4 linked regions of the Homo sapiens genome follow. The protein of the gene in region 3 interacts with the protein of the main gene of each other region in a biochemical or structural test. Each region holds a gene or a part of one and is shown on either strand. Other genes may lie near its edges.

What was found. The genes of interacting proteins can lie anywhere in the genome.
Region 1: of the proteins of PRSS1 (region 3) and SERPINF2, one has a biochemical effect on the other in vitro, tested with the Homo sapiens proteins (one study listed by BioGRID).
Region 2: the proteins of PRSS1 (region 3) and SERPINB8 form a complex in vitro, tested with the Homo sapiens proteins (one study listed by BioGRID).
Region 4: the proteins of PRSS1 (region 3) and UBE3A form a complex in vitro, tested with the Homo sapiens proteins (one large-scale study listed by BioGRID).

Annotation. Positions count from the first base shown.
Region 1 is NC_000017.11:1,741,527-1,745,670, reverse strand, and holds the start of SERPINF2 (alpha-2-antiplasmin isoform a precursor), read right to left. Parts: upstream 2,801-4,144; 5' UTR 2,763-2,800; intron 2,673-2,762; exon of another isoform or gene 2,603-2,672; coding exon of another isoform or gene 2,595-2,602; intron 1,338-2,594; exon of another isoform or gene 1,125-1,337; coding exon of another isoform or gene 1,081-1,124; intron 680-1,080; coding exon of another isoform or gene 676-679; coding exon 613-675; intron 497-612; coding exon 458-496; intron 339-457; coding exon 276-338; coding exon of another isoform or gene 266-275; intron 1-265.
Region 2 is NC_000018.10:63,973,081-63,976,580, reverse strand, and holds part of SERPINB8 (serpin B8), read right to left. Parts: intron 1-3,500. UniProt on the Homo sapiens protein: Has an important role in epithelial desmosome-mediated cell-cell adhesion.
Region 3 is NC_000007.14:142,748,163-142,752,271, forward strand, and holds the start of PRSS1 (serine protease 1 preproprotein), read left to right. Parts: upstream 1-1,309; 5' UTR 1,310-1,322; coding exon 1,323-1,362; intron 1,363-2,392; coding exon 2,393-2,552; intron 2,553-3,611; coding exon 3,612-3,865; intron 3,866-4,109. UniProt on the Homo sapiens protein: Has activity against the synthetic substrates Boc-Phe-Ser-Arg-Mec, Boc-Leu-Thr-Arg-Mec, Boc-Gln-Ala-Arg-Mec and Boc-Val-Pro-Arg-Mec. The single-chain form is more active than the two-chain form against all of these substrates.
Region 4 is NC_000015.10:25,355,525-25,359,024, forward strand, and holds part of UBE3A (ubiquitin-protein ligase E3A), read right to left. Parts: intron 1,373-3,500; coding exon 1,167-1,372; intron 533-1,166; coding exon 368-532; intron 1-367. UniProt on the Homo sapiens protein: E3 ubiquitin-protein ligase which accepts ubiquitin from an E2 ubiquitin-conjugating enzyme in the form of a thioester and transfers it to its substrates.

The DNA of each region.
Region 1 (4,144 bases), on a different chromosome or scaffold from region 3:
TCAGCTCCAGGTTCTGTGTTGAAGGCCTTGTCACAGCCCCTGTGCCTGAGGACAGCAGGGCCTTGTCCCAGCCCCAGGGAAGAGGGAGCGTCAGACGGAGGGCACTGGCATTCTGGGGCCTGGCGCCCACCTTCGGTCCTCCCCACCCTCTCTCCCTTCTGGCCTCTGGACTCCAGAGCCTCAGCCTCAGCACGCGCCCCCACCCCCCGACCCCTGCCGATGGGCCCTCCTCCCTCTAGCCCCGCCCACTCTTCCCCAGCCCCACCTGGTTGTACCTGGTTGCCCAACTTGAGGAGGGTAAGTGGGGACACCTGCTCCTGGTTCGGCCCGCTAGTTAGCTGCGGAAAGGAGCAAGCAGATGGAGACCGACCCTTCCCACAGGCCCCCCACCCTGCCCAAGCCACCAGTGAGACCCCCGGGACCTTCCCCCCATCACAGGCTCCTCACTCCCCAGTACCTGCCGGCCCAAGGGCTCCATGGCGCTCACAGGGGAGAACTGTGGAGAAAGGGATGAGGATAGGAGGTCCCCTCGGAGCCAAGCCCTCCCTCCATGCCAACGCCCCTCTTCTTCCCCCTCCACCCCACCCCACCTTGACTTCAGCCCAGCCTCACCACGGAGCAGGGGCCTTGCAGGCAGGACCAGCTGAGCACCAGGAGCCCCCAGAGCAGCGCCATGTTCCTGTGGCAGGGACAGAAAGCTCTGTTCCCATCTCACATCCCCACGCCCGCCAGGGAATCCTACCCACGCGATCACAGATAACGCCAAGTCCTGGGTCATGATTGCCAAGGGGAAGAAGCAGGCTCCAGAATCAGAACAGACCCCAAACACACGAGCAGCGGCTCCCACTCCTGCAGCTGGGACATCCGCCCTGGCTTCTCCCCCTTTTTAGTTTCTGGTGTTTCATATTTCATGCATTTCATGCACTGAGGGTGTTTTGGTGAATAGGAGGGAGATACCAAATCAAAAACGTTCTCATTCTACAAGGCCCTGCGCTGTGAATCAGATCTGTGTCTGAATCCAGGCTACCTCTTGCCAAAGGACCTCGGCATTTCCCGTAACTCCACCAGGCTTGGCCTTACCTTGTAAAACGGTGGCACAAGTCCCTCACTCTTCTCACATGCATGGTGAGGACCAAAATAAGACCGTCTTTTTGGGATTTTTTGTTGTTTATTTTTTGAGACGGAGTTTCGCTCTCGTTGACCAGGCTGGAGTGCAGTGGCAGGATCTCGGCTCACCGCAACCTCCACCTCCCAGGTTCAAGCGATTCTCCTGCTTCAGCCTCCCGAATAGCTGGGATTACAGGCATGCACCACCACGCCTGGCTAATTCTGTATTTCTTAGTAGAAACGGGGTTTCTCTGTGTTAGTCAGGCTGGTCTTAAACTCCCGACCTCAGGTGATCCTCCTGCCTCGGCCTCCCAAAGTACTGGGATTACAGGCATGAGCCACTGCACCCGGCAAAAGACCATCTTTGTGGCCAGGCACGGTGGCTCAAGCCTGTAATCCCAGCACTTTGGGAGGCCAGGGGCAGGTGGATCACCTGAGGTCGGGAGTTCAAGACCAGCCTGGCCAACATGGTAAAACCCCATCTCTACTGAAAATACAAAATTAGCCAGGCGTGGTGGTGGGCCCCTGTAATCCCAGCTACTCGGGAGGCTGAGGCAGAGAACTGCTTGAACCCGGGAGGCGGAGGTTGCAGTGAGCCGAGATCACGCCACTGCACTCCAGCCTGGGCGACAGAGCAAGACTCTGTCTCAAAAAAATAAATAAGACCATCTTTGTAAACCCTGAGTACAATGCTTGGCACTCCCCCGATGGCTGGGGTCAGCTTGGCTCAAGGCCACCTCTTCTGGGAAGCCTGCCCTGAAGCCTCCACCGCAGAGCTCCAACACAGAGCTCCTACCCAGCCTGCTGCATCCATTTAGCCTGTCTTTTTTTTTTTTTTTTTTTTTTTTGAGATGGAGTTTCATTCTTATCATGCAGGCTGGAGTGCAATGGCACGATCTCGGCTCACTGCAACCTCCACCTCCTGGGTTAAAGCGATTCTCCTGCCTCAGCCTCCCGAGTAGCTGGGATTACAGGCATGTGCCACCATGCCTGGCTAATTTTGTATTTTTAGTAGAGACAGGGTTTCTCCATGTTGGTCAGGCTGGTCTCGAACTCCTGACCTCAGGTGATCCACCTGCCTCAGCCTCCCAAAGTGCTGGGATGACAGGCATGAGCCACCACGCCTGGCCCCAACCCGTCTTTCTCAGGCTGGTCAGGTCTTGCCCACAAGGCTGGACATACCTGTGAGGCCCTGAGGTCTCACCATGGGTGGCAAGGCAGCCAGAGAGCTGCCTTTTGACCCAGCAGCAGAGCCCAGTGAATGACTCTGGCCAGAGCCACCTCTGCACTTAGGAGCATCACAGGCCTCTGCTCCAGGCTGGCTCTGGGAAGGGCAGGTGTTGGTCTCAGGAGGATAAGTCAGAGCAGGTCTCAGCTACCTCCAGCCCACCCCCATCTTGGGGCCAACCCTTCTGGAGGATCCTTTGGTCCCCCCGGCCCCACCCCCATCCCACACAAGAGCCCTTGGCCAGGGCCCCGACTCCGACCTGGGCATTAGAATCTTCTTGCCAAGAACAGGCTCCAGTTTTTCAAGTCCCAGAAGAGGCTGGGGAGTGACAGGCCTCCTGAATAAATCCCAGACCCCTCAGCCAGGGAGGCAGCTCCCTCCTCCTCTCCTACCCAAGGAGCAGGCCGAGCAGCCCCTCCCCTCATACCTCTGCGGGCTCCTTGCTGCCACACACAACGTTCCTCTGGCCCCACTTGGGTGCTCCTCACTCTCTGCCCAGGCTCCAGCTGGCCCAGCCCACCCCTCCCCTCCCACCAGGACCTTTACTCTCAGCCAACCCCTGTTCAGATTGCTTTCTCTTCTGGTAAATATTGACTTGCACATCCAGTTAAACATTGATCTTGAAGCCAGAAGCCCCTTTCCCACCAGGGCATCTAACCCTGAGGCAGCCACGCAGAACCCCCTATATTTGGGTCCCCCCCCCCGAGCCTGGAAAGAGAAAGTTCAGGAGGAGAGAGTTGAAGAGACTGGATCTGGCTAGCCAAGAGGGCGGATCCAGAAAGCACAGGAACCTAGCACTGTGTTAAGCCTTCCAGAGACCCCACGAGGTGTGGATTATCCCTGGTTCAGCCAGGCTCAGAGAGGCCATGTGACCTGCCCAAGGACACAGAGCTGGGCTGAGGCACATCCAGATTCTCACTCCCAATGTCCTTTCTTCTCCCAGAGAGCTGCCTCCCGCTCCTGAGGGGAGGAAAGGGGAAGCCACAAGAGCCTATGCAGAGAGCCCAGGATAGGAAGCCCACCCCCAACCTTCCAAGCCCAGGATCAGGTTGGCTGCCTTCAGACTGGGATGGAAGGCAGGGGGTGAGGGAGGAGAAATGAGAGGGACTCAACTTCTCCCACCGTCCTGCCACTCCAGAGCAATGTCTCTTTCCCCTACCCAAGAGCGAGGGTTCTGGAAACTGACCTGGGGCTGTATGAACCAGAAGCCTGGCAGCCCGTGCAAAGATCAGGCTGCTTCCCACCCTCACTGTCCGGCTCCTCACTCCCTGCATCAGGCTCCTTCCCACCCTCACTGTCCTGCTCCTCACTCCCTGTATCAGGCCCCTTCCCACCCTCACTGTCCTGCTCCTCACTCCCTGCATCAGGCCGCTTCCCGCCCTCACACCTGCTCCTCACTCCCTGCATCAGGCTCCTTCCCACCCTCACTGTCCGGCTCCTCACTCCCTGCATCAGGCTCCTTCCCACCCTCACTGTCCGGCTCCTCACTCCCTGCATCAGGCTCCTTCCCACCCTCACTGTCCTGCGCCTCACTCCCTGCATCGGGCCACTTCCCACCCTCACTGTCCTGCTCCTCACTCCCTGCATCAGGCCGCCTCCCACCCTCACTGTCCGGCTCCTCACTCCCTGCATCAGGCCGCCTCCCACCCTCACTGTCCTGCTCCTCACTCCCTGCATCAGGCTCCTTCCCACCCTCACTGTCCTGCGCCTCACTCCCTGCATCAGGCCACTTCCCACCCTCACTGTCCTGCTCCTCACTCCCTGCATCAGGCTCCTTCCCATCCTCACTGTCCAGCTCCTCACTCCCTG
Region 2 (3,500 bases), on a different chromosome or scaffold from region 3:
ATCAGCCCCTTTGAGATGTAAATCTTTTAAAAAAGCTTCTTGCTAGTTTTACATCCCAGGACAGTCTCTCAAAGACCTGGAAGCCATCCTTTTGAAATGTAATCATCAAGAAAGATAGCATCCCTATCAACCAGTTCTGTGGAAGGTAGGAGCCTAATCTAGGGGGGCACCTTGCTTAAAGTGCTAAAAAGCTATTACAGTTTACTATTATTATAATTTTAGTGCATTATTATAAGTCCTACATTGTTGTTTATATCTATTAAACCCTATAAAAACGTGGGCTATTTCATAAAATATTGCAGTTCACCAACTCATCTCAATTTCCCTCAGCCTTTTTGTTCTTACAATTGAGAACATTTGGGAAAATAAAAGGACAAATCATTATCTATAATCTCATGATCCTACAGATATTTTTTCTATTATATTATCCTTTTTTTCATAAACATGTATAATTTTAACTGAAAAATGTAGTCAAACAAGAAAAATATGCTCCAGTTTGGAAAATTAGCAAATGAGCAAAATGAAAAGTCCTGGAAACTCTATCTAGAGATATAAATTATCGTGCATGTGTTCATTTCTATAAACAGATGGAGCCTCATCCAGTTTCCCAGCGGCCTACAAAGTGCCTGTTGCAGCAGCTCTGAAACTGTATGCCCTTAGTGGGGGTCTTGGACAGGTCTTCTGGGTCTCTTAGAGCACAGGAGGAAAGGGGAATTGAGTGGCTGAGACAAGGAAGTGGGGAACAACTGTATTAACCAAAGTATCTTCACTGTTGGATGTTTTGCTTCCTCCTAAGATATTTCGCTTCCTCCTAAGATATTTTTCAACAGAAGGGTGTCTCTTACTTAAACAAAAAAGTGAGCTTATATATTTTTTTAAAGTGTAAAGGCAACACTCTAAATATAGAACAACAGTCTAAAGCAGTGCAAATTCTTTAAAGTTTAAAATAAATGTTAGTGCAGTTCAGAAAAAAACAAGTAGGGTTAGGGTTATGGTTAGGGTTCAGAAAACTAAGTAAAATAAATGTGAACCAAGAAAACACAATCATGACATAATTTGCACAACAGTACTCTATACTTAAGAGGTTGTTTATTATGGAACAAAATATTCCTGTTTCTCACTATCCTCACATCATAAGACCTCTCCAGAGCTTATACTAGGGTCTGCAGATGTTGGAAGGCAGAGTAGTATGTGCAGGCAAGTCCCGGGGTCCTCCACAACCTCATCTTTCACTCGAGGACATTTCAGAGACTGGGAGGCAGGAAGGAATATTCAGACTTCATAGAACTGGGCCAACCAGAAGGTGGCACCAAAGAAACTTAAAGATGGAGAGAATTGGGTAAACTGGGTAAGACAGAGACACAAATAAATTTGGATTTGATCCAACCTTAGCATAAGAGCTTTGGACTCAGGGTGAAGCAAGCATGAACTTAGGTTGGGGTGTGTGTGTGTGTGTGTGTGTGTGTGTAGGTGTGTTTAATCATCCTGTCTGAACTATTGAATCAATAGTTTCAATAGTTCTGAATGAACTGAACTATTGCATCAATCTCATCTTTACATTTTAACTGCTCTTAGTTGCAAACTGCTACTTCTGATTTCTTCCATCTTTCCTCTTCCTTCATCTCATGTCCCCACTTCCATTCCTTTTCAACACTCAGGTGCTGGTCAGTATGTGGTATTTCCCATCAATATCTACCCTGCAGCCACAATACATGTGCACACACTCACACACAAGTGCACCCCCTTGGCCTCTGCTCAGGTCAGAAGTCAGGCAGGGGAGAAAACCAGGTAACAGAATGACTCTTCCCCCTGTCTTCCTGGTGTTCCAATCTCATTTGGACTTTATAGCTTTTGAAAGGGTTGGAACTTTAAACAAAATGGACTTTACCCAATATTTCTAAAAAGCAATTAATTTTAATACAAAATAATACTTTAGGTGCCAATGCCACAATTAGATTGTGTTATAAAAACACAGGAATCAGAAGTTTTTATTTCCAGCCAACCAAATAAATTGGCATTAAACTAGTTTTTCCTTTTCAGGCAAACAAACAAAGACAGAGGCAATTAAATACTGTCCACAGGACTCACAGAAAAAGTGAGAGTCAGCCTCAAAAGCAAGCCTTACGTTTCCAAGTATATGATATTGTCCTCCTCCTGGGAGCCCCAAATACCTACGAACTACCTCCTCCACTCCCCCATCCCCATACAACATCCAAAAGTGAGTTTATTCAAAGAGCATTTATGTAGAATGTTCACTACCTGTTTTGGGAGGAGAAAATGAAAAATAAATGCGTTAATCACTGCCCAGAAGCTTACACCCTAAAGAAGACACACATATGGAAATGCGTAGTTTCAAGCCAGTCAGGTGCTCTATAACAGGATAATTTTGAAAGTGCTATGGAAATCCTCAGAAAAAAACAAGTAAATAAATAAATAATAAGAAGAAAACCTCTACAGAATCCTGGAAAGACTTTCCAGAGAAGCTGGCTTTAAAAGCTGGGCAGGCCAAGGTAATTTATAGATTCAATGCCATCCCCATCAAGCTACCAATGACTTTCTTCACAGAATTGGAAAAAACTACTTTAAAGTTCATATGGAACCAAAAAAGAGCCCACATTGCCAAGACAATCCTAAGCAAAAAGAACAAAGCTGGAGGCATCACATTACCTGACTTCAAACTACACTACAAGGCTTCAGTAACCAAAACAGCATGGTACTGGTACCAAAACAGAGATATAGACCAATGGAGCAGAACAGAGGCCTCAGAAATAATACCACACATCTACAACCATCTGATCTTTGACAAACCGGACAAAAACAAGAAATGGAGAACGGATTCCCTATTTAATAAATGGTGCTGGGAAAACTGGCATATGTAGAAAGCTGAAACTGGATCCCTTCCTTACACCTTATACAAAAATTAATTCAAGATGGATTGAAGACTTAAATGTTAGACCTAAAACCATAAAAACCCTAGAAGAAAACCTAGGCAATACCATTCAGGACATAGCCATGGGCAAGGACTTCATGACTAAAACACCAAAAGCAATGGCAACAAAAGCCAAAGTAGACAAATGGGATCTAATTAAACTAAAGAGCTTCTGCACAGCAAAAGAAACTACCATCAGAGTAAACAGGCAACCTACAGAATGGGAGAAAATTTTTGCAATCTACCCATCTGACAAAGGGCTAATATCCAGAATCTACAAAGAACTCAAACAAATTTACAAGAAAAAAACAAACAACCCCATCAAAAAGTGGGCAATGGATATGAACAGACACTTCTCAAAGGAAGACATTTATGCAGGCAACAGACACGTGAAAAAACGTTCATCATCACTGGTCATCAGAGAAATGCAAATCAAAACCACAATGAGATACCATCTCACACCAGTTAGAATGGTGATCATTAAAAAGTCAGGAAACAACAGGTGCTGGAGAGGATGTGGAGAAAAAGGAACACTTTTAAACTCTTGGTAGGACTGTAAACTAGTTCAACC
Region 3 (4,109 bases):
CTTTGGCATTATTTCCAATTCCCTCTGGTTTCCATTTGCTTCCTCCCTCTAGCCCCCTGGCCAGGTCCGATTTCAACACCAAGTTTCTGAGCTTTTCCCATTTTGTCCACCGTCTCTAGAACATTTCTGCTTCTTTTACCTTTCAAAGAATCCAAACTTGAACTCTACTTACTCCTGCCCATCACCAGCCTGAGCTCAGAGTTGCTGAGAAGGGAAAGCACCCTCATAAGGAAGCTCCTCCTTTCCCTACATCATTAGACTTGAGCACAGACAGCATCTCCATTTCCACACTGCTCTGGCCAGGTTGTGCCTCAGTCAATTACACAACTGTGTCTTAGTAGCCTTGGTAGGGCCCAAATCAGGATATTCTCTAGGAAGATTCACTTTGTACTGAGCCAAGCATAATCTCACTGCATCGAAAATAGAAAATGATCATCTGATCATTCTGGTTCAGACTGTCAGCCCTGAGCAGGTGGGTCAGTTTGCATCACCTGAGTGCAGATTGCAAGGACAACAGTGAGGCTGCATAAAAAGAACCTATGACAGGATGCACATGAGAGAGACAAATGTCTTCACATTGAAGAAGGGGAGGAGTGCGCCATTGGTTTTCCATCCTCCAGAGGCACTGAGAAAGCTCCTACAGAAACTGTGCCCCCTCCTTCTTTGAAACACTTCCCATCCTTAAGCCTTGGTAGGAAGGAGAGAAATCTGGAAGCCCAGAATCCTATGGAATGCTGAGTCTCCCTTCTCCTTACCCCTTAGTGTTGGAATTTTCATTCCCCAAAATCTTGCATTTGACCTTCCTGCACACTGACTGGAGAGAAGCATCTTCATATTCACAGGAATGAGCCTTAGATAAGACTTTGCTCCTCTCATGTGGGCCCCAGGAAACTGAAATCCAAGCTTTTTACCAATGCTTGCCCTTCCTTAAGTACATTAAATACATTCCCAATAGGTGGAAAGATTTGTAAACAGCTAGGCCATTCTCCCTCCTTCTAACCCTCATCTCCAGGGCCTAAGAAAGCCCAGCTCTGTTATCTGGGGCTTGACTTTCCCTGTCTTCCCCATCCCAGTATCCTTGCAGGAAACAGCCGGTCTCGCTCTCTGCTCTCAGAAGGAAAGTTTCCTTATCACCTGTGAATCACAAACCCAGAGAGTGGCCAAACATAGCCAGGCTGATGCAAGACCCTGGGAAGAGGAAAGCTGCAGGTGTGTTTGTGCTGGGAGGAGTGGTGACCCTCACCTCACAGTCACCTCCTCTCTGGATCCTCGTGAGGTATAAAGACGAGTCCTCCACCACCAGTCAGGCACACTCTACCACCATGAATCCACTCCTGATCCTTACCTTTGTGGCAGCTGCTCGTGAGTATCATGCCCTGCCTCAGGCCCCAACCACCCCCCCGTTCCTGGCCGACAAATGCCCTTCCATTCTTACCACCTCTCCTCTTTTGACTGTGCTCTGATATTCCGTTTCCTCCATCTGGCATATCTCCTTCCCATCCTCCTTGGGCTCTTTTTAAGTCTCACCTGTTCACCTTCTCCTTGACTTCACTCCCACCACTGTCATTCATCCATATCCGAGTTGTGGTTGGAGAAGCTGGGAAGGGGGCCAGGTGGGGCTGTCCCACGAAATGAAGCAGCAGGCTTCAGGCTTGGCTCCAACAGCAACAGAATAGCACCACTATAGCTGCTCCTAACCTCGAATGCACCTGGGGAGGTTGAAAAATTACTCATGCCAGAGACTCAGCTCTAGAAATTCTAACTTCAATTGTCTGGGGTAGAGCTTGTGTTCTGGGCTTTTAAGCTTCCCAGGTGATTTTTAATATTTCCAGCCATGCAGCCAAGGTTAAGAATTGCTGTCCTATTGGCCAATAACAAAGTCTACCTTTGTTCTGCCAAAGTGAGCCTGGGGGCTGCCCTCAACTCTGCCCTGACTGCACAGATCTGAGCTATGGGGGAAGGTGGTCATGGCCAGGTCTATGCAGACAGGGGGTTTTCCTAGCTTGGCAAAAGAATCCTGACAATCCAGGGCCCAAATAGCCAGGGGAAGTACACAGGTGATGAATAAAAGAGAGAAGCACTCAGTGGGAGAGACAACCACATCCCAACTCCTATCCCACTGGAAGCATTGTGAGGACATTCCTTGCGACTTCAGCCTGGTGACCCCAGGAGAGCTCGGATCCTCCGCAGGGTACCTAGCTATGTGCCCTGCAGGCACAGAGACTTGGGAGCCACAGGCAGTGATGATCACCAGGGGTGGCAGAGCTCCCTCCCTTGCCTAGCCTCACTGTGCTTGTTAAGGATTTCTAATTAGCAGAAAGCAATCACAGGCTGGGAGCGCCACCCCTAACATGCTATTGACTTGCCTTCTCCCTTCCCATCTCCACTCCAGTTGCTGCCCCCTTTGATGATGATGACAAGATCGTTGGGGGCTACAACTGTGAGGAGAATTCTGTCCCCTACCAGGTGTCCCTGAATTCTGGCTACCACTTCTGTGGTGGCTCCCTCATCAACGAACAGTGGGTGGTATCAGCAGGCCACTGCTACAAGTCGTAAGTGTGGGGCCCCCGACTGCAAAGCTCCCGGCCAGTCTGCCTGGGAGAGCTTGGCTTCAGCCCAGGGAACTACTGAGGTTGGGTAAGATGGATGGGAGAGGTGGTGGAGAAGAAAACTTGTTGGCAGCTGCGGACTCTCCAGAGCAGAGAGTGAACACAAGACAGGAACCTCTCACACCCAGGCAAATCCATGAAACAGCAAGGGTTGTGGTCATAAAAGCAGGCAGGGATGATCTTGGGGTGGTGAGAGCTAGTGAGAAAAGCAGGCAAGTATCTTTTGCTGGTTAGCTACACATTAAAGCCAACTAAGAAAGACTTTTTAAAAATACAGATGCCTTTGTCCTATCCCAGGGCAATTAAGTCAAAATTTTCAGGAAGAGGGTGTGAATATCAGTGAGAATTTTACACTCTACCTCTGCTAACTGTAGAGTGTATAGACAGAGCTGAGAACTGCTGCCTACACCAAGAACTCTCAAACCTGAGTATGCATCAGAACGCCCTGCAGGCTTGTTAAGGCACAAATCACTGGGCCCCTTCCCCAAGGTTCTGATCAGTAGGTGGGGGTAAGGACCAAGAATTCACATTTCTAACAAGTTCCCAGGAGATGCTAATGCTATGGCTACCCTTGGATTAGATTACACAGAAGGGTGGTTCTCACCAGGCCAAGAATGGAGGGAGGAACAGGCACTGTGCACAGTTGGCAAAGGCCTGGGGTGAAGAACGCTGGGAAAACTTCAAGGAGCTCCTTGTGCCCACAGTGCTAGTGACTGTGGAGATTGTGGGAAAGAGTCTGGGGAGGCAGGTTGAGGAGCAGCCTCTGGTGGGATCCCTTTGACTCTTCCCCACCCCACTACCACCAACCTCTGGAGCAGATAGGTCCTGGGTCTCATACCTTCACTGACCCACATCCCTCTGCTGCCCATGCGATATGGCCACACACCCCACCCCATGCCTCCAGAGCTGTCCATGAGCAGAGAGCTTGAGGAACCTGGGGAAGGTGGGATAGGTGCCCTGGCTGTGGGAGAAGGTCTTCACCATGCCTGCCCTGCCCATCAGCCGCATCCAGGTGAGACTGGGAGAGCACAACATCGAAGTCCTGGAGGGGAATGAGCAGTTCATCAATGCAGCCAAGATCATCCGCCACCCCCAATACGACAGGAAGACTCTGAACAATGACATCATGTTAATCAAGCTCTCCTCACGTGCAGTAATCAACGCCCGCGTGTCCACCATCTCTCTGCCCACCGCCCCTCCAGCCACTGGCACGAAGTGCCTCATCTCTGGCTGGGGCAACACTGCGAGCTCTGGCGGTGAGTGGGACCCTTAGTCCTTCTACTTCCCTCCATCCTCACAATTTCCAGAACAAACCATGCCCCTTAACTTGAATCCTCTCACCTCCAGGCTTAAGACACATTTCGAGTGCCCATTACACACAGACTCTGCACTGGGCACCAGAGAGATGCAAACTATCAAGGACTTGGCTCCTAAAATCAAGAGACAGGACAAATGGAGAACTTGATATGATCACATCTTGGGAGGGGTTCAACAATGATC
Region 4 (3,500 bases), on a different chromosome or scaffold from region 3:
ATATACATGTGTAAATTAAATGTAATTTTTATTTGTTCTGTGATAAAGACCTTAATCATGAGGTTCCTGCTTACAGCTTAATACAAGAAACACCCTGCTTCTTGCTTTATACTACAACCACACTTAGCTATTAACTATCTCCTGCTTCATGTCCTCTTTCTCTAAAAGGGGCTTTAGTGCCCAACTGTGTGCTTTCATACCAACTTATATCCAAGATTTAGAAAAGTGGACTCTAGCATTTACATAAACTTAGTTACTTGTTTTTTTTTTGTACAGACTATATTAGATACTTCTTTAAAAATTATAAGCATACATGCTTTGAAAGTGTTAATGAAGAGACAAAATGTGACATAAAAACATTTATTACCTTCCTGTTTTCATTTGTAATTGGAATTTTATCACCATTTTCCTTTAGATCATACATCATTGGGTTACCAAAAAGATCTGTCTGTGATATCTGGAAAGTGATCATCATGTCATCTTCCACATTCCCTTCATACTCCAATAAATCTTTTAAACTCTGATATAGAACCTAGCAACCAGAAATGGTAAATTGAGGCCACCATAGAACTACAAAATACAACAAATAATTTATATCACTCTTCTTAGAAGACAACAAAAATCTTATCAATAAAAATTGTAAAAAGTGTAGACAGTATCCCTCCAGTCCCCCAAATAGTTTCCAACCTATAAAAGAAAGATTGTCAGTCACTGTGATGTCCCATTCTCTGCTGAGAAACCCCATACCACCAATTTAGCAATAGAATTCACACTGTGCTCTATGAGAAATTCTGTGGTGTCTCAAGGTGGGGGTGGGGGTGGTAGGAGCAGGCACACTCGTTGTAACTACCAAGACCCTTAGCCAGGGCTACTCTGATTTTTACCTATCTCTTAAGATTTCACTAAAACACAAACAAAATGTTTAGAAACACTTCTCTATGAAATCAATCTTACAAAAGCTTCGTGCTGACAGCAATATATAAAAATGTCCCCCTTTGAGTTTTTAAGTGTTTCTGGTACTTCGGTCAGATTAAAACATTTTTATCTTATTGATAAGAGTATCAACAAAGATTCTAAACAAAAACTTTAAAATTTTGACATAAATTAAATTTTTGCATTTAAATAAAATCTAAGAGACTGAATTAAAAAAATGACAAAGAACTTACTGGGTGAGAGTCTCCCAAGTCACGAAAAGTTCCTTTTTTCCCCATTAGCTTCCTGTAGACAACCATGGGAAAATGTACATCCAGTATACAGTTATTGTAAATAGCCAGACCCAGTACTATGCCAATCAGAGTAAACTGACCCTCAGTTTCAAAAGAAGATGGATTAAACCAAAACAATTTTGTAGATTCATCGTATGTGAACATACCTATAAGAAATGATTTTTAAAAATACATTACTTTTGTATTTTATTAAGGACTGATGAATAATACAAATATAAACTTAAAATAATTATGCATATAAAACATTTAAAATATATGTAATTAGGCATGCAACATTGATTTCTATTATATTAGCACTTGAGAAAACAATGTCCACATATATCTGCTATAAATTGGGGTGAATGGTGATATGTAATTTTATGAAGCCAAAGGAATAAAGTAGTAAGTAATTTGGTGGCATCGGGTAGAAAAATACGTTAATTAAATTCAAGCTTTCTAATTTTCTACTAACACATAAGAAAAGTTATATTCATGCTTTATCCACCCATAGCTGAAAAATAAACATAAAAAAACAAAAAATGGCTACATTTCCAAAGTGTTTCATTTATAAAAATATAATTACTTATATCTGTACCACACGTACTATTTTTGAAAACAATTTTTCATTTTTTTCCTTGAGATGGAGTCTCGCTCTGTTACCCAGGGTGGGCTGGAGTGGCACGATCTCAGCTCACTGCAACCTCTGCCTCCTAGGTTCAAACAATTCTCCTGCCTCAGCCTCCTGAGTAGCTAGGACTACAGGTGTGCACCACCACGCCAGCTAATTTTTGTATTTTTAGTAGAGAAGGGGTTTCACCATGTTTGCCAGGATGGTCTCAACCTCTTGACCTCGTGATCTGCCAGCCTCAGCCTCCCAAAGTGCTGGGATTACAGGCGTGAGCCACCACACCTGGCCTAAAAAACAATTTTTAATCACAGTAAAGAAAGGTTCGTTTTTTCAAAATTAGACAATGGTGCCATGAAATTTTTCTAGCATTTTCCTAATAAAATCAGATGATCTGAAATACATAAACCTGGATAAATCTGATGAACTTAGATAAACAAAGCTATTCAATACACATGTTAATTATGGGCCAATACGTAAAAGAAAAGTAGTTTCGTAGTCTTTCAATTTCACATGGTCTTCACTATGCAAGCCCCAATCATGGAGGCTTTTTTTTTTTTTTTTTTTTTTGAGACGGTCTCGCTCTGTCGCCCAAGCTGGAGTGCAGCAGCACTCAGCTTAGTGCAAGCTCCGCCTCCCGGGTTCATGCCATTCTCTGGCCTCAGCCTCCGGAGTAGTTGGGACTACAGGCGCCTGCGTGGAGGCCTTTTTTATATCACTCATTGGAAAATTGGGGCCCGGTGTGGTAGTTCACACCTGTAATCCCAGCACTTTGGGGAGGCTGAGGCAGGCAGATCACTTGAGCTCAGGAGTTCAAGACCAGCCTGGGCAAGATGGAGAAACCCCATCTCTACAAAAACACAAAAAATAAGCTGGGTGTGGTAGCATGTGCCTATAGTCTCAGCTACTTGAGAGGGTGATGCATGGGGATGGTTTGAGTCTTCAGCCTGGGAGGTGGAGGTTGCAGTGAGCCGAGACAGAACCACTACACTCCAGCCTGGGCCTCAGAGCCAGATCCTGCCTCCCTCCACCAAAAAATAAAAGATTAAAAAAAAGGAAAATTGGAATCTTTGGAATGAGTACTACTAAAAATTGATTTCTTCCCTTTTAAATGACTAAGGAAAAAAATTTTAATTGAATTTAAATCATTTTACTACATGTTTAGTTGCTACTGTGAAACAATGAAAACATCTTAAGAATTAAGTCTGAAAAAAATCTGTAATTTCCAATAGAAAAGTAGAGCTTAGAAATCAGAAATCAAATTATACAGTATATAAGTATTTTAACCTGTTTATAAGAATTTTAAAATCTTTGAAAATGTCATTGTCACTTTAAGTTTAAAAATAAGGAGCTTTAACATGTTTCCTTGATCACTAGGAGTATGAATTAAGCTTAGGACATTTTCTGAATGCAAAATGGTTTGAAAATTAAACAATTCATATTTGAGTTTCATGGTTTCTATCTAAACATTTTTTTTACAGGCCAAGTTACAACATCCATGGAAATGCTTTTAGTTATAAGTATGGTATTAACAGGATCAAGAACAGCTGACAAATAATTACAATTAATAAATTTGTTCAAGCTGACAATGGTGTGTCTAAAAAATTAATGAATTTAATAAAATGTCACAAATGCCCTTCCTTGGAACCAAGAGCAACAAGCTATAAGTT